Linked DNA regions of Homo sapiens. The protein of the gene in region 1 purifies or fractionates together with the protein of each later gene. This does not show direct contact. Each region holds a gene or a part of one and is shown in the gene's direction. Other genes may lie near its edges. The genes, in order: MYH11, POC1A, PLBD2, ASTE1, UGT2B7, LCP1 and UBXN2A.

Region 1 (2,197 bases):
AGACCCTTTAAGAAAACCTTTAGGGGGGTCCCTTAGTTCCTGTAACAGGTATAGTTGGTGTCAACCTTGGTCTAGGATTTGAAACCAGTTCCAAGAAAAGCACTTCAGCCAAAACAGAGTATCTTGCAGGCTGACAGCCAAGCAAGGAGCTTCAACGGCCCAGGGCACAATGTATTTCTTAGGTCAAGGGAGCAAATTTATCCATTAAGCTTTTCCAGTTAGCAAATAGACTCTTCCAAGAGCCAAAAAGAGAGTGCCTAGAGCACTGATGTGGAGGTTAGGGACTACTTCCCAGCTCATCAGATTTTTTTTTGTTTTTTTTTTTGGAGACAGTCTTGCTGTTTCCCAGGCTGGAGTGCAGTGGCACAACGTTGGCTCACTGCAGCCTTCACCTCCTGGGTTCAAGCAATTCTCCTGCCTCAGCCTCCTGAGTGACTGGGATTCCAGGCGCCTGCCACCACGCACGGCTAATTTAGTATATTTAGTAGAGACGGGGTTTCACCATATTGGCCAGGATGGCCTCGAACAACTGACCTCACGAGTGATCTGCCCACCTCGGCCTCCCCAAGTGCTGGGATTACAGGCATGAGTCGCAGCAACTGGCCAACCCATCAGGGTTTGAACCTGGAGTTAAAACTGTGACGAAGAGAGCTGTGTGGGGAGCGTACAGGGAACAGTCAAACTGCTGCTCCTCTGCGCTGAATTTGAGCATCCTTCTGAGTCAAGCGCTTGGAAAACAGTGCTAAAAAAGAAAAAGACTTAAGGGTCACATCTAGAGAGAGAAGGATGGAGAGTTCTCTAGTAGGGCTGCAAGTCCAGAAGCTTCTCTGTGAAGCTGGGCTAGGAGTGTTTACTTTGAAGTGGCTGCAGCTTTAAGTATTTATTCCTGATCGCTGCACTGCGGGAAGTCCCATCCTTTATAGCCAGGTGGGCTTTCCCAGCCGGGGTCTCTCCCATCCTCTGTCAACAAAAGGGTCATTTGCGAATTCCTCTTCTCAGTGATCATGAATCTCTGGGCCTTGATTTTTTTTTTTTTTTTTTTTTGAGACGGAGTCTCACCCTGTCGCCTAGGCTGGAGTGCAGTGGCCACATCTCGGCTCACTGCAAGCTCCGCCTCCTGGGTTCATGTCATTCTCCTGCCTCAGCCTCCCTCCCGAGTAGCTGGGACTACAGGCACCCGCCAGCACGCCCGGCTAATTTTTTGTATTTTTAGTAGAGACACGGTTTCACCATGTTAGCCAGGATGGTCTCGATCTCCTGACCTCATGATCCGCCCGCCTCAGCCTCCCAAAGTGCTGAGATTACAGGTGTGAGCCACCATGCCCAGCCGAGTTGTTCCTTTTGACTAAAGAATTGGTCACTGAGTTGTGTTCATCCTTATGGCTTCTTATCCAACCCTTGCGTGGGGAGCAAAAGTCTGCTCTCTTCTTTGATGTCCTAAAATAAGACCTGTCTTCCGATTCAGGTCAAACAGGGCCAGATGGCCAGAGCCCAACATAATTATTTGTTGCGGTTGCTGAAAAGAGTTAAGTGTTTCTTCTGAACGGTGAAGGCTGGCAGCAGGCAGATCTGATTTTTCCTTCTTCTGCCCACTCTCTTCCTCCTACCCAAAGTCTCCCCTCACGTGACCAGCCCTTCCTGTGAAGTCGAGGTGATAAACTCAAGAGAGAACCAGCGCAGAGAGGAGATGGCAGCATTAAGGAGAGACAGGGGTGTCCTACTGGCTGGAGCTAAAATCCACCTCAGAGGCCAGGTGCACTGGCACACACCTGTAATCCCAACACTTTGAGAGGCTAAGACAGGTGGATCGTTTGAGGCCAGGAGTTCAAGACCAGCCTGGGTCACATGGCAAAATCCCATCTCTGCTAAAAATACAAAAATTAGCCAGGCGTGGCAGTGTGCACGTGCATGTAGTCCCAGCTACTCAATACTGAGGCTCAAGGACTGCTGGAACTCAGGAGGCAGAGGTTGCAGTGAGCCAAGATCATGCCACTGCACTCCAGCCTGGGTGAGAGAGACTCTTAAATTTCTTTTTTAAATCCACCTTGAAGGCCAGGTGTGGTGGCCCACGCCTGTAATGCCAGCGCTTTGGGAGGCCAAGGTAGGAGAACTGCTTGAGCTCAGGAGTTCCAGACCAGCCTGGGCAACAATATCAAGACCTCATCTCAATTTAATAAAATAATCCACCTTGGATTAA
Region 2 (3,500 bases), on another chromosome or scaffold:
CCCCCTCCATAGGAAGCCCTGAGGTTTGTTACCAATGCTCTTTCAGACAGAGGCTTCTGGAACAGAAGAGCAGTGGGGCTTGCCTCCACTTGGAGCCCATATCTTTCCTATCCTTCCTTCAGCCTTCTGCTCTGGGCCAGGCCTGAGTGAAGGGCTGGGGCTTGGGGATGGGGCACATCTGCCCAGCTGCCTGGGGAACGTGGGCAGGTGCAGAGGAGGGAGGACTTGGACAGGGAGAGATGGGAGTGGAAGGCGACGAGGCAGGACAGTGGTCAGGAGCACATGCTGTGGTTCCTTTCTGTAAAGGGGGTGGCAATAGGCCTTCCTCATGGCTTTGTGAGGCTCTGATGGGAAAAGCCACAAAAGGGTTATAACACAGGGCTAGGTATGTGGTTTGTGCTACATAAGTCCTGACACTGGGCAGAGAGGATGTCTAGGTGACCCTGGGAGGGTCCAGACCCATCTCTGATGGATCAGGAGCCTGGGCCTGGTGTTCATGGGTATAACAGCAGGTACCCCTTGGGAAGGGCCTTGGATGCCATCTCTGGCTCGGGGTCCCAAAGATGTGGCCTGATTGGCAGTGCTAGGACTAGCCTCGTCATTTAAGGTATGAAGGGAAGAAGGACATCTGAGAGGATAGCGGTGTCCAGAGCCTGCTGGGGTTGGGGGCTGGTGTGCCCCATGTGTCCCAGTGATGGGTAGGTGTCCAGCTGTGCCTGGTATCAAAGTAGGGGCTGGCATCAGAGTGGGGGATGGGTTGCAGAGGTTGAGTAGAAGCAGAGAAGCTGACCCTGTTGGGGTGGAGGGGCCAGCTGGACCCAGGGATCTGGGATGTGAGAATGGCTGAGGTCACATTCTGAGCCCCTATAATTGAGGGGCCACAGAAGATAAAGGTCCACAAAGCAGCCAGAGTGAGAGGTATGAACCCCGTCTCCAAGCATGGGAGAGCTGAGGAGGGCAGAGGCTGGGGAGTGAAGGAGAGTGGGGTCTTGTGAAGAGGGTTGTCAGGAGGTGGAGCAATGCAGAGCAGCCGAGGAGAGCGGTGGGTACTGGGGAGAGGGAGCTGGGGACCTGGAGGGAGCAGGCTTGGCAGAGGGCAGGGGCGGATCTCCATGATGGCAGGGTTGGGGAGGTGTGGATGGACTCAGATGAGCTCCAGGGGCTGAGTCCTGAGTGGAGCTGAGTGTGTGGGCTGACAGGCCCTGCTGGGAGATTGCAGTCTGCTTGTGCTTCTGGCCTTGCCTCTTATGACAGCCTCTCAGTGGGCCTGCAGTGTCTCATCCCTAAGCCACCCCTAGTGTAGATTGGAGGCTTAGCAGGATTTGGAGTACCCCATAAACACAGCCGGTTCCCCCTGAGCTCCCTGCTCAATGCCGTGGCCAGTGGTGGGTGTTCACAGGATAGCGGAGTCATCCCATAGCCTCTAGGCTGACCCTTAGGGGTGCAGTGAGCCAGGTTGATCTGAGCTCCCTGGGTAGGGGGAACATACCTCTCATCCTCTGCTGACGGGAGGACATGGCCAGGTCTGCTCTGGTCTTGGGGCTCCCCAGAAAACCTTTAGCTGAAACTAGGGGGAAACCCTCTACCCAAGTGGCTCCCCCACCCCCATAGGTGCAGTGGAATCTCTTTGGAGGCTCATTCCCCAGGAAGGGCTCCCAGTACTCTGGCAACAGATGCCTGATCCGCTTTCTGTCCCTGATCCCTAGGAAACCCAAGGGAAACCTACGGACACAGTGACGTGCAGTGTCTCCCCTAGTGACTCTGGATGGGCATCAGGCACTTCCAGAATGGCCTTCGGGTGTTGGACGCTGATGGGCTCTTGTGAGAGGATTTGGTTAATGATACTGCAGTGTGTGGCTAGCAAGCCCCAGCCTGCCTGCATCCAGCCGTCCATAGTTGTGCTCTATGAGGGCACTTCCTGTTCCTGCTAGGGTTGTTGGAGTTGAAGCCCACTTGGGGCTTTGGGCTATGGAGGCAGCTGGAGCCATTTGTCTTGCGCTGGCTGACTCTCCTAGGTAAGGAGTTTCTTGGCTCTGGCCTATCACTGCAGAGAGCAGTTCTGATTTCTCAATTCAGCAAGGATTTGGGCTGGTGGAGCCCTGGGAGTGCCAATCCCTGTGGTGGTGGGTTAGCTCCATATGCTCTGAGCCCACGTTAAGACTGTTCAGGCATCTGAGCAGCAGCCCCCATCCCAGAACCTGTAATGTGCTTCGTGCCTTACAGCACGTGCAGGTCCATTATCCAGTGACAGGCCTGGGTGGCCAGCAAAGTAGGTCTACCCTCCATTTCACAGATGCGGAGCATGCAGCCCACAGTCACACAGCTAGAAAGCTATGGGTCTGAGTCTCCACCTCAGGGCCTTTGAGTCTGGCATTCTGTTGACAGGCTCACGCTCGGTTCCTTGCACTTCGGTGACTCTAGTCATTTACTCTTCAGGCTCCCTGGGAGAGGTGGTCTCTTTGGCTGGCTGTCAGCAGGGCTTAGAACTCATAGAGTCCCAAGCTCTCTGTCCGATGGTCTTTAGTGCAGCCCTGCACCCCCGCCTGGCCTGATACATTGTCATGGAGGGTTTTGTCTTTTTTTTTTTCTCTTTCAGAGATGGGGTTGGGGTCTCACTGTATTTCCCAGGCTGGTCTTGAACTCCTGAGCTCAAGCAGTCCTCCCACCTCGGCCTCCCAAAGTGCTGGGATTACAGGCGTGAGTCACCATGCCCGGCCGGAGGGTTTTAAGTAGTTGCAGCTATCAGGGCAGGCCTGTACCCTGTACTGGGTGTTTTGAGACTAAAAGGGTTGATTGGGGTACAGTGGTGCTGTCCCACCTGATCTAGCCAACCTACTCTCCCACTGTCCTGAAGTGAGCATTTACACGGCATTTACACAGAGGAGTGTTTTGGGTGTCCTTTGCTGCTGGTATCAGAGCACTTTTGTGGTATGAATCCAAAGCCTCTTGTCAACCCAGAGCCACCGTGTCACTAGTAACATCAGTTGCGCATCGCAAGAGACCACCCTGGGGAAAATGAGCGGTCCTTTTGTGGAAGGATGTTGGGATGGGGCTTGGCCCTGGCATGGTCTCCTCTAGAGAGGAACCTCCTGCTTGGGCACCCAGGCTTTCTCTGGGCCCTTGGCTGGTTTGCAGCCCGTTAGGTAGTGGGCCTAGGTTTGCCCAAGCCTCTACAGGCAGAGCAGCATGGAGTGGGTGTACTCAGGTCTCTGCTTAGACCACCTACTGCCCACAAGCCATGACTAGTTCTTGGTATTTGGGAGCAGGGGCTGTGGTGGCCTCATCCCTGGGTCCCTGAGGATCTGTAGAAGTTTGATGTTGGTGTATCTTTGACCTGGAGTCAGAGTTCTCTCTTTGGAGTGGAGATGGGATAAGAGCCACAAGCTCACAGCTGCCACCCAGGTGGCAGTATGTGTCATCACTGATATCTGCCATGGAGCCAAGAAGAGGCCTGCGGCTTTGGACTTGAAAAAAAGTGGATCATGCTCAGACATTTGGCG
Region 3 (3,500 bases), on another chromosome or scaffold:
TCCTCTCACCTTAGCATCCCCAAATGTTGGGATTACAGATGTGAGCCACTGTGCTCGGTACCTTCTTTCAGTTGTGCCATATCTTGACTTTGGGCCAACACCCCCACACAGCCTGGAAACATTTATGATTTGGTGCTTGGAGATCAGAGATGTCACTAGGAGCAGAGCCTGCCTCAGTCTAGCTCTGGCCTTGGTCCTGGGGAAGCTGTATCCTCCAACCTTACTTTGTCTTCCTTCCCTGATCTGATCCCACTGACCAGCACCTTATCGACGAGGTTGCTTAAAGTAAATCACCATCCCGTTGAGAGAGGAAGTGAATCAAAGTTAGAGGGAATTAACAAATTTAGTAAACGGGGAAGCATCCCAAATCCACCAACCAACAGGCAAAAACAGCCCAGTAAAATGGATAAATAAGGCCCAGCTGTTTCTTTGAACAATCACAGGAGATGAATCTATACCATCAAGAATGAGAAAGGAGGACAGGCGCTGTAGCTCATGCCTGTAATCCCAATGTTTTGGGAGACCGAGGCAGGAGGATGGCGAGGGGCCAGGATTTCGAGACCAGCTTGGGCAATGTGGTGAAACCCTGTCTCTGCAAAAAAAAAGTAAAAAATTAGCTGGGTGTGGTTGCGCATGCCTGTGGTCCCAGCTACTCGTTTGAGCCTGGGAAGTCGAGGCTGCAGTCAGCTGTGATTGTGCCACTGCACTCCAGCCTGGGCAACAGAGTGAGACCCTGTCTCAAATAAAAAAAAAAAAAGGCTGAGATAGGAGTGATAGACACAGTTATGGGGGGCATCCCACATAATGGAGAGCATCCAAGGCCATACTAGACTGCGGAAGTGGGGTGCTGATATTTGTGAGATATTTGTGGCCCCCTGCTCATATCAGTGGTCTGACTTTTTCCAATGTGGCCTCTTTCAAGAGGCACCTTGATTAGACTCTTGAGTCATCTTAGAGACATTAGCTGCCCCTGGCATGAAATTGCAATTTGGCCCATAGATTTTCCAGGAAAAAAAAAAAAAGATTGAGGAAACAGACCTACTGCTGCCAACTTTTAATTTTTGTCAAGCAAGTGCATTAAAAACAAAGGAGAGCAATATTTGTCAACCCCTGTCAGCGTTTATCTCATAAAAGATTGGCAATTTTAGAGCAAACAAGCAGAAAGGACATACTCTCTGAATAAGGAGTAATCTTCTTTTGATTTATTTTTTTTTTTTGAGATAGAGTCTGCTCTGTTACCCAGGCTGGAGTGCAGTGGCATGATCTTGGCTCATTGCAACCTCCGCCTCCTGGGTTCAAGTGATCTTCCTGCCTCAGCCTCCCTAGTAGCTGGGATTACAGGTGTGAGCCACTATACCCAGCTAATTTTTTTTTTTTTTTTGTAATTTTAATAGAGATGGGGTTTCACCATGTTGGCCAGGCTGGTCTTGAACTCCTGACGTCAGGTGATCTGCCCACCTCAGCCTCCCAAAGTGCTGGGATTACAGGTGTGAGCTATTGTGCCTGGCCGAAGAGTAGTCTTTAATAAGCACATCTAGTTATAGACACACTCTAAAGTGTTTTTCTGGCCGGGCGCTGTGGCTTGTGCCTGTAATGCCAGCACTTTGGGAGGCCGAGGCAGGAGGATTGCTTGAGCCCAGGAGTTTGAGACCAGCCTGGGCAACATGGTGAGACCCTATCTCTGCAAAAAATATAAAAAACTAGCTGGGCACGGTGGTGCGTGCCTGTAGTTCCAGCTACTCAGAAGCTGAGACGGGAGGACTGCTTGAGTCCAGGTGAGGCTACACTGAGCTGTGATCACGCCAGTGCACTCCAGCCTGGGTGACAGAGTGAGACCCTATCTCAAACAAAACAAAACAAAACAAATTTCTAGCAGTTTAGAAAGAGGGGATGGGATATGGGAAGTAAAAGCCTCCCCCTACCATTCTTCCTAGATATAAACATTTTTAGCTTTTTTTTTTTTTTTTTTTGAGGTGGAGTCTCGCCCTGTTGCCCAGGCTGGAGTCAGTGGCGCGATTTCGGGTCGCTGCAAGCTCCGCCTCCCGGGTTCACGCCATTCTCCTGCCTCAGCCTCCCGAGTAGCTGGGACTACAGGTGCCCGCCCCCACGCCCGGCTAATTTTTTGTATTTTTAGTAGAGACGGGGTTTCACCATGTTAGCCAAGATGGTCTCGATCTCCTGACCTCATGATCCACCCGCCTCAGCCTCCCAGAGTGTTGGGATTACAGGCGTGAGCCACTGCACCCGGACTTTTAGCTCTTTCTTCCAGAATTTTCTATGCATAAAGAGGCCTAAACCTTCTTGCATACATATAAATGTAGAGGCATATGTGGTGTGTGATGCATTTACACAGGGGCTTAGTTCGTGCCTACCATTTGGACTTCTCGACTTTTTTTTGAACTTCATCTCTGACCTCTTTGCTCATCAGCACATGCAGTCCGCTATGGCATGTGTGATTATTGTATCAGGCCCCTAATGATGGGTGTTTCGGGAAGGCCCGTCTTTTCTGGCTTTGAAGAGAAGTCCTGCTGTGAAGAAGGGCCTTTATGCCCATCTCTGCAGGGCTGTATGAGCATCCGGCCAGGGAATGGGTTCCTAACCACTGCCCGTCTCCGGGGCCTCAGTGCCGAGGCCTTGGCTGAGCCCACCCTTGCTAGAAGGGGTAGCTCTCACCAGGTGTGCCCTGGAGGAGGCCACTGGCCGCTCAGTTACTACTGGGGCTCGCGGCTGCACAGCTTTTTTGGTTTTACGCAGTTTGTCCGAGGTCTCCTTTGATCCACTGCCAGCTTTTATCACGAGGGGATCTGCATATTGGGCCCTGTTATAATCTTCCTCCCATCATCACACTCGCCGGGTCTCCTCAAACTCCTACCCCCTCAGATTCTTTTTTTTTTTTTAATGAGACAGCATCTTGCTCTATTGTCTGGACTGGAGTACAGTGGTGTGATCATAGCTCACTGCAGCCTGGGCTCAAGCGATCCTCCCATCTTAGCCCCAGCCTCCTGTGACTATAGGCAAGCACCACCACACCTGGTTAATTTATTTTGTATTTTTTGTAGAGAGGGGAGTCTCGCTTTATTGTCCAGGCTGGTCTCTTACTCCTGGTCTCAAGTGATCCTCCCACCTCAGCCTCCCAAAGCACTGGGGTTACAGGCATGAGCCACTGCGCCATCTCCTCTCAGATTCTTGATGAGACAAATACTTAGTGAGTGCATAATGTGTGTTCTCTCCTGGCACATGCCACAGCAGTCCTCTGAAGGGGGAGTCACTCTGCCCATTTTACAGATGAGAAAACCGAGGCCCCGAGAGGTAAAGCAGTTTGCCCAAAGGTACACAACCAGTAAGGGATCTACCCAGGGATTCAGACCAAGTCGGAGGGACCCACAAGCCCAAACTCTTTGTCTTCCATTCTCCTTGAAATTTAAAAATCTAATTTTTTCCCCTTGTTTTTTCCTCTGTCCTTATCTGTGATGCTATGTGAATAATTAGCCCGAAGTTCA
Region 4 (3,500 bases), on another chromosome or scaffold:
CACATGGGATAAAACCTAACTAACGTTAAGGGCTGTGAGTTGAGTACTTCCCCTTTTGGAAGGGACTGTGGACTGGTGGGTTTGATGAAACATCTTATACAAGTCATTATAATGACCATTTTACAGATAAGTCAGACAGACTGTAGAAAAGGTCAGAAACCTTTCGACCAAAGCCATAGGGTTAGTGCAGAGCGGAACATCTCTGAAGTCAAAGCCCAGACTGCTTTGTTTATGAAAAGTTGTAACTTGGCTCTATAATTCAGTAATTTAAATATATATCAGAAAAGAGTTGGTGTATTTTCTTAGCTCTACTTAGTGCATTTTAAAAACCAGTTTAAGAGTTTAGTTTCCACTTTACTTAAAATTTAAGTAGTTAAAACTACTTCCAGTAGGGGTAATTGGTTATACTATAAAGTTCTTTGCATATTTCTAATTTTAAAATTTGTATCACAATATTATTAAAAGCAGTATTTAGAAATAATCGTACTATTTAAAGTTTTCATGCATTAATGATAAAACTATTTTGTCATTTATGATGTGTTTTGTTTCAGGTTAATATCTTTAGTCTCAGCTGTCAACCACTCTTTCTACTAACTAGATGTTACATGCTGAGAAATGTTATTACCATCTCAACTTTCCAGAAAGCAGAAAATCTTTTTCTGGCTGTGTGCAGACACTAGGAATACAACTTTTCTTTTTCTTAAAGTTTGATTATAAAGTCCCCCAGAAGATGACCTTTTAATATTCCTGAGTGCATGACCTGTAAGGTCCCCATTCTGGTTCTTACAAGGTCTTGGTAATTCATTAAGGTAAAATTATTTCAACAAGAACCTCAGTGCTCTTATAGCTGTTTTACTTCTGAGCTTTTATTTGAAGTACACGCTAAACCATGAAGTAAAAGTATGGCGTGTTACTCCAAGCACAATGCAAGTAGTCCTTAAAATATTCCTATCTCCCTTGAATATACCTCTAATCTACAAGCAGCCACCCTGGGACAATCCCTGTGTGTCTTTTATGCAAAGACAATAAAGCATTCAACAGGGAAGGGACATGAGACAGGACCCAAACAAATAGAGTATATGCCACATAGGGTTCCTAAAAGCAACGTTTGTCTTCTGGAGGCAATTAGTAATGGCATCATGCTGAAGGCAAATGCCTGTTGCACAGGCACATACAGGTGGTGTTGAGTATACAGCTTTGTTTCTCAAAGTAGAATACTTGGGCTGCTAGTTAAAATGTATATTCCTCCTGGGCTCTCTCTCAGATTAGTCAATCAAAATTTATGGAGTAGGGCCTAAGGATTGAATTTTTAATGAGCTTCCCAGGTGACGTGCACTGAAGATGCTCACCAGCGTATACAAAGAGGATGGAATGACATAAGTAAAGGTGTAGGAGTAGGCAGTACACCCATTCAACCAACCATATTTATAAAGCATCTTATTAATGTTCTAAATGCTGTGAGTGTGGCTGATTTTTTTTCCCACAAGAAGATAAGTTTAACAGCTGACAGAAGTTTCAGTAGCATTAAATCTCTTCATGCTATGGTGGAAAAAAGAAATAACAGACATTTCCCAAAGTAACTTGCAGGATACTTGGTGTGTATTTTCAGCTCTCCTTGAGGAGGCGGCAGATGCTTCTGTTAGAAACCCTGAAGGTGAAACAGACCATTCTGGAGCCAATCCCTACTTCACTGAAGTTGCCCATTGCTGTCAGTTGCTACTGGTTGCAGCACACCGAGACCAAAGCAAAGCTACATCATCTACAATCCTTACTGCTCACAATGCTAGTGGGGCCCTTGATTGCCATAATCAACAGCCCTGGTAGGTAACTGGAAATTACAGGAGTATATTGTGGCATGTTGCTTGCAAACTGTTTACTCGAGTTTACACAAACAAAAAAGTATTCTTGGATTATTTACTCCCATTAATTGTATCACAACTTAGATGTGGAGGCACCAAAATATCATTCATTCATTGGTAAATATTTTTTAACACTTCATGTGCCAGGCTCAGTGCTGGAGGGCTTGAATCTTAAGTATACAGCAGTGAGATGTGTTGGGGTACTGCCAACTTCCATCTGTTTGGTGGCACCTACTCCTTTAACTTGTGAATTGTGACAGTGTATTTTGCCAGCTGCATTTTGTATTCCATGTTACCTATCCAGTTATTAGCACAGCAGCAACGTCATCACAAGAAACTTGCCCAGAAGTGAAACTTATCTAAATACCTACAACCACTACATTCTTGCTTATACATCTTTTTATTCCTTTTTCTCTGCTGTAGGTTTCAATTAGTATGTAAGTAGTGATGGCAGAAATAGTAATTTGTCCTTTTTTTTTTTTTTTTTTTTTTTTTTTGAGATGGAGTCTCACTCTGTTGCCTAGGCTGGAGTGCAGTGGTGCAATCTTGGCTCACTGCAGCCTCTGCCACCTGGGTTCCAGTGATTCTTCTGCCTCAGCCTTCCGAGTAGCTGGGATTACAGGTGCCTGTCACCGCGCCCAGCTAATTTTTGTATTTTTAGTAGAGACGGGTTTTCACCATCTTGGCCAGGCTGGTCTTGAACTCCTGACCTTGTGATCCACCCGCCTCAGCCTCCCAAAGTGCTGGGATTACAAGCATGAGCCACCGCGCCCGGCCAGTAATATCTCTTAAATACACTGAGGCAAGTTCATCTGCATATAATACCAGGTGAAGTAAATGCTGAAACACTGGGACACTTTAATACTTCAGTGGAATATCCTCTTTAAAGATTATGAATGCTCTAACACTGTATAAACATGCATAATAATTATACTCTGGAATAGTACTATCTAATATGGTGGCTACTAGCCACACATGGCCAAAGTTAAATTCCATTTAAATTAAAAATTCAGCTTTTCAGTCACACTAGCCACACTTCAAGTGTCAGGTAGTTACATATGGCTATAGGCTAGCCTACTGTATTGGACAGCACTGCAGAAAGTTCTATTAGATCGTGCTACTCTAGTTTACTATTTTAATAAGTTAGATAAAAGAATGAAACAGCATGGATTCCTGTTTCTAAAGTATTAAGGCTCAAGCTTGACAGCTGTCAGAGGGACTGTTGTTATATGACAGCCAACTTAACACAAAACAAATCAGTTAAGTCCCACTGCTGCTTTATGAACACAGGTTTAGAGTATTTCCTCTGATTGAATAATAAATACAGTATAAGAAAGCTCTCAGAGCACAAGCCTATTAAGTTTTTACCTGAGTCCAAGAGAAGGGGCATGTCAAGGGTCTGTTTCTTTTCTTTTAGGAAATGTGGACCCTGTACCCAGGCAGGCTCAGTGTCTTGCTCCTCGCTAGTTGGTAAAAGGTGGGCCTCCTTTTTATTATTTTCAAATTGGTCCAGATGTTATTTTGTGCACCCCTGCCCAAACAAATCTGTAGAAACTTACAGCTAAAAACACACAACATTCCTTATTTCCTAGGATTGTTGCTTCTTGCCCCTTATCCTCTACTATGAAAAGAAAATGATTA
Region 5 (3,500 bases), on another chromosome or scaffold:
ACCATATTTTCTCTATTCAGCCCATAATCAATGGGCATTTAGGTTGATTCCATGTCGTTGCTATTGTGAAAAGTACTGCAATTAATACACCTGTGCATGGGTCTTTATAAAAGAACCATTTATAGTCCGTTGGTTATATACCCAGTAATGGGATTGCTGGGTTTCATGGTATTTTTACCTCTAGGTTTTTGAGGAATCGCCAGTCTTCCACAATGGTTGAACAAACTTACATTCCCACCAACAGATTATAAGCAAGCCTTTTCTATACTACCTCACCAGTATCATGATATTTTTTGAGTTTTTAATAATAGCCATTCTGACTGGTGTGAGATGCTATCTCATTATGGTTTTGATTTGCATTTCTCTAATGATGTTAAGCTTTTTTCTTTTTTTTTTTCATATGATGGTTGGCCACACGTAGGTTTTCTTTTAAAAGGTGTAACAATTTTTTAAATGCTTGAAATTTTCATTGATAATCTGATTTTTTCTAAGGTACTATTTTGGAAAATCATGATTTCCTTATATACCTAACTAATTATAAAAGTTGAGAAAATTAATGTGAGTATTCTATTTACATTAGTCTTTGAGTAGTTCTTATTTACTAACATCCCTTGATCTCATTCCTACTCTTTATACAGTTCTCACATTCTATAACTTTTGAATTCCACTCATGGAATAAAATATTTTCTTTATTGTAACAGGTTCTGTGGAGATTTGATGGGAATAAACCAGATACCTTAGGTCTCAATACTCGGCTCTACAAGTGGATACCCCAGAATGACCTTCTAGGTAAGACTCTGGTGAACAAATACTGAATATATTAGTAACAGCACATTAGAGTGTTAATAGTTCATCATGAAACAAGCTTATTGAATATTTGTTAAGGAAAAACAAAATGTAACTTCTTTATATTGATTTTCCAGTCTTAAGGGAGAAAGAATACATTATAATTTTTGGCATTTTATGATATACACCCACATTCTTTATAGTCTGAATCGGGGGAATCTTTATTTCAGGTGTTATTATATCTCACAAAATTTTTCAATAACTTCCTGGGCTGTCTCTCTGTCTCCTATTTCTACAACTTTACACCTGTTTTTTTCCTCTCCCGCAGGGTTATTTGAAATGCCACTAAAAATAATAGCTCTTCTATCACCAGTGACTCTGTATTTTCTGAAGAATTAAACTGCTAATCTTAATCATACAGTGATGATACATTTCACGATGAAGTGTGACCTGTCCTTCCTCAATCCTAGCACCACCACCAAACCACTGCCTGCTGCCTTGCCCACCCCATATATCACACTCTGTGACTGCACTTAAAATAAGAGTTCACTTCATGCCTATCTCTTTGCTGTCTTCTTTTTTGCACATTTTTGAAATCTAGAATGCAATTTTTCATTAGCCCAACTGGAAATCTTGTATTGTTTTGCAGTCTGAAGTCACACACACCGTATAGCCTTCAGTTACATACCCAGTACAAGTACGTGTTTTTTCCTCCGAAGTCTGAAACACAATTTTAATTTAGTTCAGTGTTTTAGCTGGAAAACACTGTCACTTTCAGAGCCTTTCATTGTGCATCTCATTTTATTCCTATGAGTAATTTTGCTAAAATTCATCCAATCCTAGGTCATCCAAAGACCAGAGCTTTTATAACTCATGGTGGAGCCAATGGCATCTACGAGGCAATCTACCATGGGATCCCTATGGTGGGGATTCCATTGTTTGCCGATCAACCTGATAACATTGCTCACATGAAGGCCAGGGGAGCAGCTGTTAGAGTGGACTTCAACACAATGTCGAGTACAGACTTGCTGAATGCATTGAAGAGAGTAATTAATGATCCTTCGTGAGTAGAACAATATTTTTCACTAGGTGGTATTTACAGATAGCTTCTCTTGTCAATAGTGAGTGTGAGTTTCATCCTTTTTATAAGAGACTAATTTTGAAAGAATTTAAATGATTTAACCAATCTGAAATCTGCTTTTATTTTTATAAGTTATTTAAAAATTGAATTTGAAACACATACATCTAAAGAATAGCCAGTTAGTGAAACAATTTTCTACACAAAAATAATTTTAAAAGGATATAGATAATACAAAAAATACATTTCTTAAAAATTTGACATAATTAATCCATAGAAGAAAGGAAGAATAAACCTGAAATAATATAATAAAATATTTTAATTAGATATCTAAAACACCTCAGAGTATAACCATTTTCTTGCTGAAAAATTAACTTTTATTATTATCATTATTGTAACAGACTTGAAAATGAGATTTAATTTTGATAGCATAAAACCCCCCTGTTTATGTTATAAAATCCAAATATATTTAGTATGTTTACAGAGCCATGAAGCCATCACTATTACATAATTTTAGAACATTTTTATCAACACAAAAGAAACTGCAATGACACAGAAGTCACTTCCTATGACCGCTTAGCCCTGGTCTAACTAATTTGTTTCCTTTCTCTATAGATTATTCTCTTTAGATATTTCATATGAATGGAATCATACAGTTTAGGGTGTTGTGAAATGACATTTCACCTAGGCTAATTTTTTGTTGTTTTTTTTTTCTGGTTTTAGTTTCATTCATGTTGTTGTGTGTTTTAATACTTCATTTCTTTTTATAGCAGTTTAATATTTTTTAGTAAAGATATGTCATATTTTAGTTGTTCACTTATCAGTTCATTGGCCTTTTGATTGTTTTCAATTGTGGCTATTAGGAAGATTGCTACACATGTTTTTGCATAAACATGTTTTCCTTTCTTTAGGGTTGATACTATAAGTGGAATTGCTGCTTCATGTGGGAACTGTATGTTTATGAAGAACTGCTAAACTGTCTTCCAAAGTACTTGTTTCATTCATGACTACCACCAGCAGTACAACATGGTTCCAATTCCTCCATACTTTTGCCAAACCTGTTATTCCCTGACTTTTTGTTACAGCCTTCTTAGTGGGTGTAAAATGATCTCTCATCCTGGTCTTGGATTGCATTTTCATTACGGCTAAAGGTGTTGAGAATCTTCATACGTGCCTACTGATCATTCATATATCTTCTTTGAAAACAGTCTATCCAATCCTTGGAACATTTTTAAACTTTGCTATTTGTCTTATTATTAAGTTTAAGAACTATTTATATATTATGGGTCATGTCAGATATATAACTTGTAAATATTTTGTCCCACTCTGGGTGCACTAAATTTTACTTTTTGATGTTGGTCTTTGAAGCACAAAAAATATAATTTTAAGTTAAATTTTTAATAATTGATTTTTTCAAACCCAAAGATATCAATGTGCAAAATTCCTTGTGGAGTCCAGCTACCATCAATTCAGCATTTATAGCTACTATCAATAATGTTTTTTTATATAAGCAGGGTATCATCTAAAGGAATACTTGAAAAATACTTTATCACAAAAAAAGAAGGATAATGAATGATAAAAATACCTTTAAAGAAGATAGGAAATAATTGAAAAAGAACACAAACCAGCTTGGACA
Region 6 (3,500 bases), on another chromosome or scaffold:
TTGATTTGGAATAAATTTGTAAATTTATTCCGAAGGCTGCCATCCAACAGCCATAATGGAAACTTCCAACAGGCCAAACAGTATAGTTGTTGCAACATTTCCAAAACTGAATTATTCAAAACGTTAGTTGATCTTAAAGATAAACTCATGAGGCCGGGCACAGTGGCTCACGCGTGTAATCCCAGCACTTTGGGAGGCCAAGGCGGGTGGATCACCTGAGGTCAGGAGTTAAAGACTAGCCTGGGCAACATGGTGAAACCCCGTTCTACTGGGTGCAGTGGCGCATGCCTGTAATCTCATCGACTCGGGAAGCTGAGACAGGAGAATCGCTTGAGCCCAGGAGGCAGAGGTTGCAGTGAGCCGAGATTGCACCATTGCACTCCAGCCTGGCGACAGAACAAGACTCTGTCTCAAAAAAAAAAAAAAAAAAAAAAAAGATAAGTCATGATTAAATACCATCTATAGTTGCTAAGACAACGTTTGGCCTTTTGTTTTTAAATACAGGAATTTTCAGAACCTTTGCTGGGTCAAATGTGCAATGTGAATCTTTAAGGCGGAGATACATTCACTACACAGTATTTCCCAAACTTTTATGACTCAGGATTTCTCTGAGGGACACTACTGTTTTCAAAAACTGTCAGTTTGGGAAACATAGTGCTAGGCTGTGAAGACATAACTTGAGTTTTTATTAAAACATCTAAAAATCACCTTCTGGCAGCTTTACTGTTAGGAAAAAAAGATTATATCCAAATGATTTTATTTTATAGCAATTTAATTATAATTGTATCAAGAAACTCAGAGGTACAATAAGGATTGTCCACAGTGATCCAACATTTAAACCAGCAGAGCTAAAAGCGGAATCCTGAGTTTTGTCCTGTAAGCATTATACCACATTTGTATTTATATGTGTATATATATATGTATACATGCACATATAAATAAAATATTTTTATTATTTATGTATTTATATATAGAAAATAAACATATGTATATATTTGCTTCTAAATGTAAATATATATCTGGATTATGCGTATATATAGGAACAGAGAGATAGTTTTGGCCGGGCGCGGTGGCTCACACCTGCAATCCCAGCACTTTGGGAGGCTGAGGTGGGCAGATCACGAGGTCAGGAAATCGAGACCATCCTGGCTAACACGATGAAACCCCGTCTCTACTAAAAATACAAAAAATTAGCTGGGTGTTGTGGCGGGCGCCTGTAGTCCCAGCTACGGGGGAGGCTGAGGCAGGAGAATGGCGTGAACCAGGAGGCAGAGCTTGCAGTGAGCCGAGATCGCGCCACTGCACTCCAGCCTGGGTGACACTGTGAGACTCCATCTCAAAAAAAAAAAAAAGAAAAGAAAAGAAACAGAGAGATAGTTTTTAAATCTGTTTGCTCTATGTTTTATGACTTGGAGTACACAGACTCAATGCCTATTTCCCAAGTGATCTGAGATTTTTAAATCTTAATAAATATGAGATGATAAGATAATGGACTGAATAAACTCACATCTCTCTGCTGGGAATGAGAATTTAAGATCCACATGCATAATTTTGTTTATAATAGAGTTTCACTTTGCAAATGAGTCACTTTAATCATTTACTTGCAGAGGAAGAAAAGTATGCCTTTGTCAACTGGATAAACAAAGCCCTGGAAAATGATCCTGATTGTCGGCATGTCATCCCAATGAACCCAAACACGAATGATCTCTTTAATGCTGTTGGAGATGGCATTGTCCTTTGGTAAATAATACTTCTTTCTTGGTTTCCAAAGAATTGCCCATTTTCTAGACCATCAACAATTAATCGTTATTTATCGTAGGCCAACTTTGTTTGGTGCTCAGCTGCACCTAGAAGGCTTTTCTGGACTTTCACTTGGCCAGGTCCAGGACAGCAAACTAAATTCAAAAACAATTTATAATGAGAAATGTAAAATTGCTATTGCTTGAGTGGAGAGGAGGGATAAACATTATAGAGATAAACATGGAAGATATAGTTATACCAAGTCAAAAGCATTAGATGTCTAATCAATGTATTAGATAATTAAGTGGGGGAAACTTATAAAATACTGATTAAATAATGACTATAGAAGGACATTAAAAAGTTTATCTGATGACAAGTTTAAAGTATAAAGTTGGATCAGGCATCAAGCGGAAATGTAGACATTATGTAAGCTCAGAAGTACATAGATAGTCTCTTCTATAATGAGGACAATTTTCCTGGTTATATATTTTTGGAATATATGCTGCTTGGCTTCATCTGAGCGTGGCTCACCATGAAAGCAGATAGAATTGATAATAGCAGCAGGATGATGGAAGAAGTCCTTAAACTGTAGTCCTTAAGCAAAGAAACCTTTGAGTGATGCACAGAAATCCACAACTCAAACATTGAGGACACCTGGAAAAGGGGGACTGCATCCTACCCACGGGAGGCCTCTAAATATGGTGCTGCTCAATGCAACGTGGTGTCTTTGAAAATACCTCTGTAGCTCTTGCTTCAGCAGGTTCTCTGTCATCACAGGCCAAGTTGTAAGTGAAGTGACTTGAGGTGCTCAATATGTGAGGGACTCAGGACTTAAAGGATAACAATGGGTGGGAAAGACATTGAGCTTTCTCCTCTGCTCTGACCAGAGCAATTCTACTTTTGATATTTTATTTATTAGTTTGTCCTGAGAATTCATTTTTAAAAGGTTCAATTGCTATAAAAAAATCAAAATTCTAGCTTTTAGGTTGCCACCCAAGGCACCCCATGGTCTTCCCCCAATCTGCTAGTTTTACCTTCTAAGACCCCTGTGACTCATTGGTACTCAGCCTAGGGCACTGAGAAGGATATAAAAATGTTATCATATGATTAGCTGAAGATACAAAGTTTGGTCCTGTGTCAAATAGAAATGTAGACAATAATAAGCTCAGAATTTTGTAGACAGTCTTTTATATAATGGGGACAATTTTCATGGCTAAGAAAATAAAGTACTTATGGTAGAATTACTTTGGTTATCCACCCAGAATTTCCTAATGTGCTAAGAAAATCAGGATAATTTTGCAGCTGTTTAGGTGGGAGAATGAAGTGGGGTCCTCATTTCCAACCTCAATATATGAATGTGGCTTCAGTAGTATTCACCTTTCCCGCAGATAGTTTGAGTCTAGTCAAACGGCATAACTGATTTTATATCTAAACATCACAGATTCTGTTGCTATCTTCTTTGATTATGGTATTGCTAGAATTTAAATTCAACGTTACTGGGCTCTGTTATTCAGAAGACTGCTTTCTTTAATTTAATTGTTTCTCTTTCAGTAAAATGATCAACCTGTCAGTGCCAGACACAATTGATGAAAGAACAATCAACAAAAAGAAGCTAACCCCTTTCACCATTCAGGTATGTCTTCCCACCGTTACCATAATACAGGATTTGTTTGGCATCAATGAGCATCATAACTGCTGAGTCCGCCTTTTTCAGGGGCTCAGACATCATTCGCAAAACCCAGGCTTTGGGCTGGTGACTT
Region 7 (3,500 bases), on another chromosome or scaffold:
TTTTCTAAAGGAGATTGTATGTATGTATGTTTTTATTTATTTGAGATAGAGTTTTGTTCTTGCCACCCAGGTTGGAGTGCAATGACCCAATCTTGGCTCATGGCAACTTCTGCCTCCTGGGTTCAAGCAATTCTCCTGCCTCAGCCTCCCAAGTAGTTGGGATTACAGGTATGCACCACCACACCCAGCTAATTTTGTATTTTTAGTAGAGAGAGACAGGGTTTCACCATGTCGGTCAGGCTGGTCTCGAACTCCTGACCTCAGGTAATCTGCCCGTCTTGGCCTCCCAAAGTGCTGGGATTACAGGCTTAAACCACCGTGCCCAGCTAAAGGAGATTATATTTAAAATGAGCTTTGCATTTCCGTCCAGACCAGAACCCAAGATGGCTGCACTCTTGCTGAGACATGTTGGAGTGGTCATTGCCTCCGAGCGCACTTTAGCCCTCAGCTTTGTATCAGAAATGCTGTTCCTTTGGGAATCATGGCCAAAGAAGAGATGGAATGGTTCTGGAATAAGAACACAGGTTCAAACCGTCCCGTATCTCCCCACGTCACTATCTAGAGTTGGTGTCTTCCTATGTCGATGTCCATCTGCCACCATGGCTCTGGTATTGCTTTGAGCACAGGGGTCTCTTTTTGGCATGTCAGCCCTGTTACTCCCAGGAAAGTTTAAGTCTTACTTGGAACTCATTGGTCCCTGTGTCTGGGGCCAGCACTGATGGACACAACTAAGTTTGCACTCGTCTTCCCTCTCATGTATCATACCTGGAATGGGATCCAACACTTGATGTGGGACCTAGGAAAAGGCCTGAAGATTCCCCAGCTATACCAGTCTGGAGTGGTTGTCCTGGTTCTTACTGTGTTATTTGTAGGGCTGGCAGCTGTGTGAAGAACTGAGGTGACCAGCATCATCTTCCTACACATTATTGTATTCACCCATCTTTCAGTTTGTCAGTCTTATCTCCACCCTGGGAAAAGTTCTCCTTATTTGTTTAGATTCTTTTGCGCTTTCAGATCCCCTTGGAACAGTACAGTACCTTGTAGACCGTAATGGTGGAAAAGGGTCTAGTTTTCCCCTTGTTTCTAAAGATGGGGTGGCTGCAAAAACTCCCCTTTTTTTGCCCACAGCTTGCCTAATCTGGGCCTAGAAGCAGTTATTCTCTCTCCATATTGGGCTTTGATTTGTGCTGAAGGTCAGCTTTTGGCTCCTCCTTCCTGGGATATTGGAAACAATGCCAGCTCTGTGGCTTCTGCCCTGGGGACTGGGGGTGAGGCTTTGGGCACCACTGCCTGTGAGTTGCTGGCTTAAAGGACAGTTCTGTTCATTGGTGAGAGCCAGGCCATTAACACCTACGCAGTGTTACTGAAAGAAGAGAGGTGGGAGTGGAGCAGAATTAGTCTGTCCCAGCTAGAGAGAGCTAAAGAGGACTAGTTAGTTCTTGGAGCAGCTGCTTTGAGGAGAAAATATATAGCTTTTGACCCAAGAGGAAGATCCAGAAAATTATTGAATATATTAAAGTTTTTTTTCTTGCATTTCTAGAAAAGCCTCTTAATTTTTTGCTTTCTCATCCAAGTCATGTACCACTTTTTTCTGAAACTGAATTAAAATACTTATTAAAAAAAAGGGGGGAGGGCCCTTTGTGACATAAGATAACATTTCAGTATGGAGCCCTGGAATGAGAATGTCCTGGAATGGGAATGTCTTGGTCAGCCCTGGAATGACTCAATAAGTAACCTTGCCAGTCTCTGCCTAAGTGTCACCTTTCCCATAGGATTTTCTCATTTAAATTACTGTTGTCACTACCACTTTGGTCCTTGGAGTATATAAGTAGCCCATTAAAAATTTCTAGGAAAGGACAAAAATATATTTTCTTCATTACTATGATTACAGCTAAAATAAGCTGAAACTTTCCAAAAGATTTCATTTTCTATCACTTAGTATATAGTAAACCAGAATTCACAAAATATACAAATGAACTGTCTTTTAAGTATTTGGTTCTGATGCTATCATAGTTGGTTGCTTTTGGAGGCTTGGGGGCCTAATCACATTCCATAGAAGATCTAAGTAAAAGGAACCCAACATGGAAATGTGATCCATTGGTTTCTTTTCCCTCGTGTTTAATACCTGGAATGGCCTTATCCTTAAAAAGAAACGTAAGCTTCTATATAAAGGTAGCATGTCTGATTGTATAATACCTTGATACAAATCCATAATCTAAAAAAAAGTGGCCAGTTTTTTGTTTGTTTTTGCATTTTTTCTCCTCAAATTCCTTTTGACCATGAAATATATGTTTTAAAAAATAAAATTGTAATGTGCAATTTTTAATTTAATTTTTAATTATGCATTTAATTCTTTTTTTTTCTTCTCTTTTTTTTTTTTTGAGACAGGGTCTCACTCTGTCACCCAGGCTGAACTGGAGTACAGTGGCATGATCTCAGCTCACTGCAACCTCTGCCTCCCAGGTTCAAGCAATTCTCGTGCCTCAGCCTCCCGAGTAGCTGGGGATTATAGGTGTGTGTTCCCACGTCCGGCTAGTTTTTGTATTTTTAGTAGGCACAGGGTTTTGCCAGGTTGGCCAGCCTGGTCTCAAACTCCTGGCCTCAAGTGATTTGCCCCCTTGGGCCTCCCAAAGTGTGGGGATTACAGGCATGAGCCACTGTGTCCAGCCACATTTAATTCTTTTGTTTATTTATTTATTTATTTATTTTTAGACAGAGTTTCACTTCGACATCCAGGCTGGAGTGCAGTAGTGCAATCTCAGTTCACTGCAACCTTTGCTTCCGGGTTCAAGCGATTCTCCCGCCTCAGCCTCCTGAGTAGCTTGGGACTACAGGCGTGTGCCATCATGCCTGGCTAATTTTTGTTTTTTGTTGTTTTTTTTTTTTACTCACTCTGTCACCAGGCTGGAGTGCAGTGGCGTGATCTCGGCTCACTGCAATGTCCGCCTCCTGGGTTCAAGCGATTCCCCTGCCTCAGCCTGCTGAGTAGCTGGGACTATAGGCGCACGCCACTATACCTGGCTATTTTTTTTTGTATTTTAATAGAGACGGGGTTTCACCATGTTGGCCAGGATGGTCTCCATCTCCTGACCTCGTGATCCACCCGCCTCAGCCTCCTAAAGAGCTGAGATTACGGGCATGAGCCACCATGCCTGGCCAATTTTTGTATTTTTAGTAGAGATGGAGTTTCACCATATTGGCCAGGCTGGTCTTGAACTTCTGACCTCAAGTGGTCCACCTGCCTCAGCCTCCCAAAGTGCTGGGATTCAGGCATGAGCCACCGCACCCAGCCCTATTTAATTCTTAAGATGTAGTTTTTATATTCAGATTCTTATACACTTATTTTAAATTTTTGTTTATAGATTTTAAAAAAGAAATCAGACAGTCTCCCAAGTCAGAAGAGTCTCAGACTCCCAATTTATTAATTTTTTTTTTTTTTTTTTTTGAGACAGGGTCTCACTCTTACCCAGGCTGAAATTCAGTGGCACAATTATAGTTCA

Evidence for each region.
Region 2: the proteins of MYH11 (region 1) and POC1A purify together in Homo sapiens (affinity purification with mass spectrometry; one large-scale study listed by BioGRID and IntAct). This does not show direct contact.
Region 3: the proteins of MYH11 (region 1) and PLBD2 purify together in Homo sapiens (affinity purification with mass spectrometry; one large-scale study listed by BioGRID and IntAct). This does not show direct contact.
Region 4: the proteins of MYH11 (region 1) and ASTE1 purify together in Homo sapiens (affinity purification with mass spectrometry; one large-scale study listed by BioGRID and IntAct). This does not show direct contact.
Region 5: the proteins of MYH11 (region 1) and UGT2B7 purify together in Homo sapiens (co-immunoprecipitation; one study listed by IntAct). This does not show direct contact.
Region 6: the proteins of MYH11 (region 1) and LCP1 purify together in Homo sapiens (co-immunoprecipitation; one large-scale study listed by IntAct). This does not show direct contact.
Region 7: the proteins of MYH11 (region 1) and UBXN2A purify together in Homo sapiens (affinity purification with mass spectrometry; one large-scale study listed by BioGRID and IntAct). This does not show direct contact.

Annotation. Positions count from the first base shown.
Region 1 is NC_000016.10:15,704,832-15,707,028, reverse strand, and holds part of MYH11 (myosin-11), read left to right. Parts: intron 1-2,197. UniProt on the Homo sapiens protein: Muscle contraction.
Region 2 is NC_000003.12:52,140,924-52,144,423, reverse strand, and holds part of POC1A (POC1 centriolar protein homolog A), read left to right. Parts: intron 1-3,500.
Region 3 is NC_000012.12:113,361,587-113,365,086, forward strand, and holds part of PLBD2 (putative phospholipase B-like 2 isoform 1 precursor), read left to right. Parts: intron 1-3,500. UniProt on the Homo sapiens protein: Putative phospholipase.
Region 4 is NC_000003.12:131,016,826-131,020,325, reverse strand, and holds part of ASTE1 (single-strand DNA endonuclease ASTE1), read left to right. Parts: intron 1-1,609; coding exon 1,610-1,820; intron 1,821-3,276; coding exon of another isoform or gene 3,277-3,326; exon of another isoform or gene 3,327-3,336; intron 3,337-3,500. UniProt on the Homo sapiens protein: Structure-specific DNA endonuclease that specifically cleaves single-stranded DNA and 3' overhang DNA.
Region 5 is NC_000004.12:69,106,474-69,109,973, forward strand, and holds part of UGT2B7 (UDP-glucuronosyltransferase 2B7 isoform 1 precursor), read left to right. Parts: intron 1-701; coding exon 702-789; intron 790-1,629; coding exon 1,630-1,849; intron 1,850-3,500. UniProt on the Homo sapiens protein: UDP-glucuronosyltransferase (UGT) that catalyzes phase II biotransformation reactions in which lipophilic substrates are conjugated with glucuronic acid to increase the metabolite's water solubility, thereby facilitating excretion into either the urine or bile.
Region 6 is NC_000013.11:46,154,678-46,158,177, reverse strand, and holds part of LCP1 (plastin-2), read left to right. Parts: intron 1-1,607; coding exon 1,608-1,740; intron 1,741-3,291; coding exon 3,292-3,373; intron 3,374-3,500.
Region 7 is NC_000002.12:23,943,463-23,946,962, forward strand, and holds part of UBXN2A (UBX domain-containing protein 2A), read left to right. Parts: intron 1-3,500. UniProt on the Homo sapiens protein: Acts to repress the ubiquitination and subsequent endoplasmic reticulum-associated degradation of CHRNA3 by the STUB1-VCP-UBXN2A complex in cortical neurons.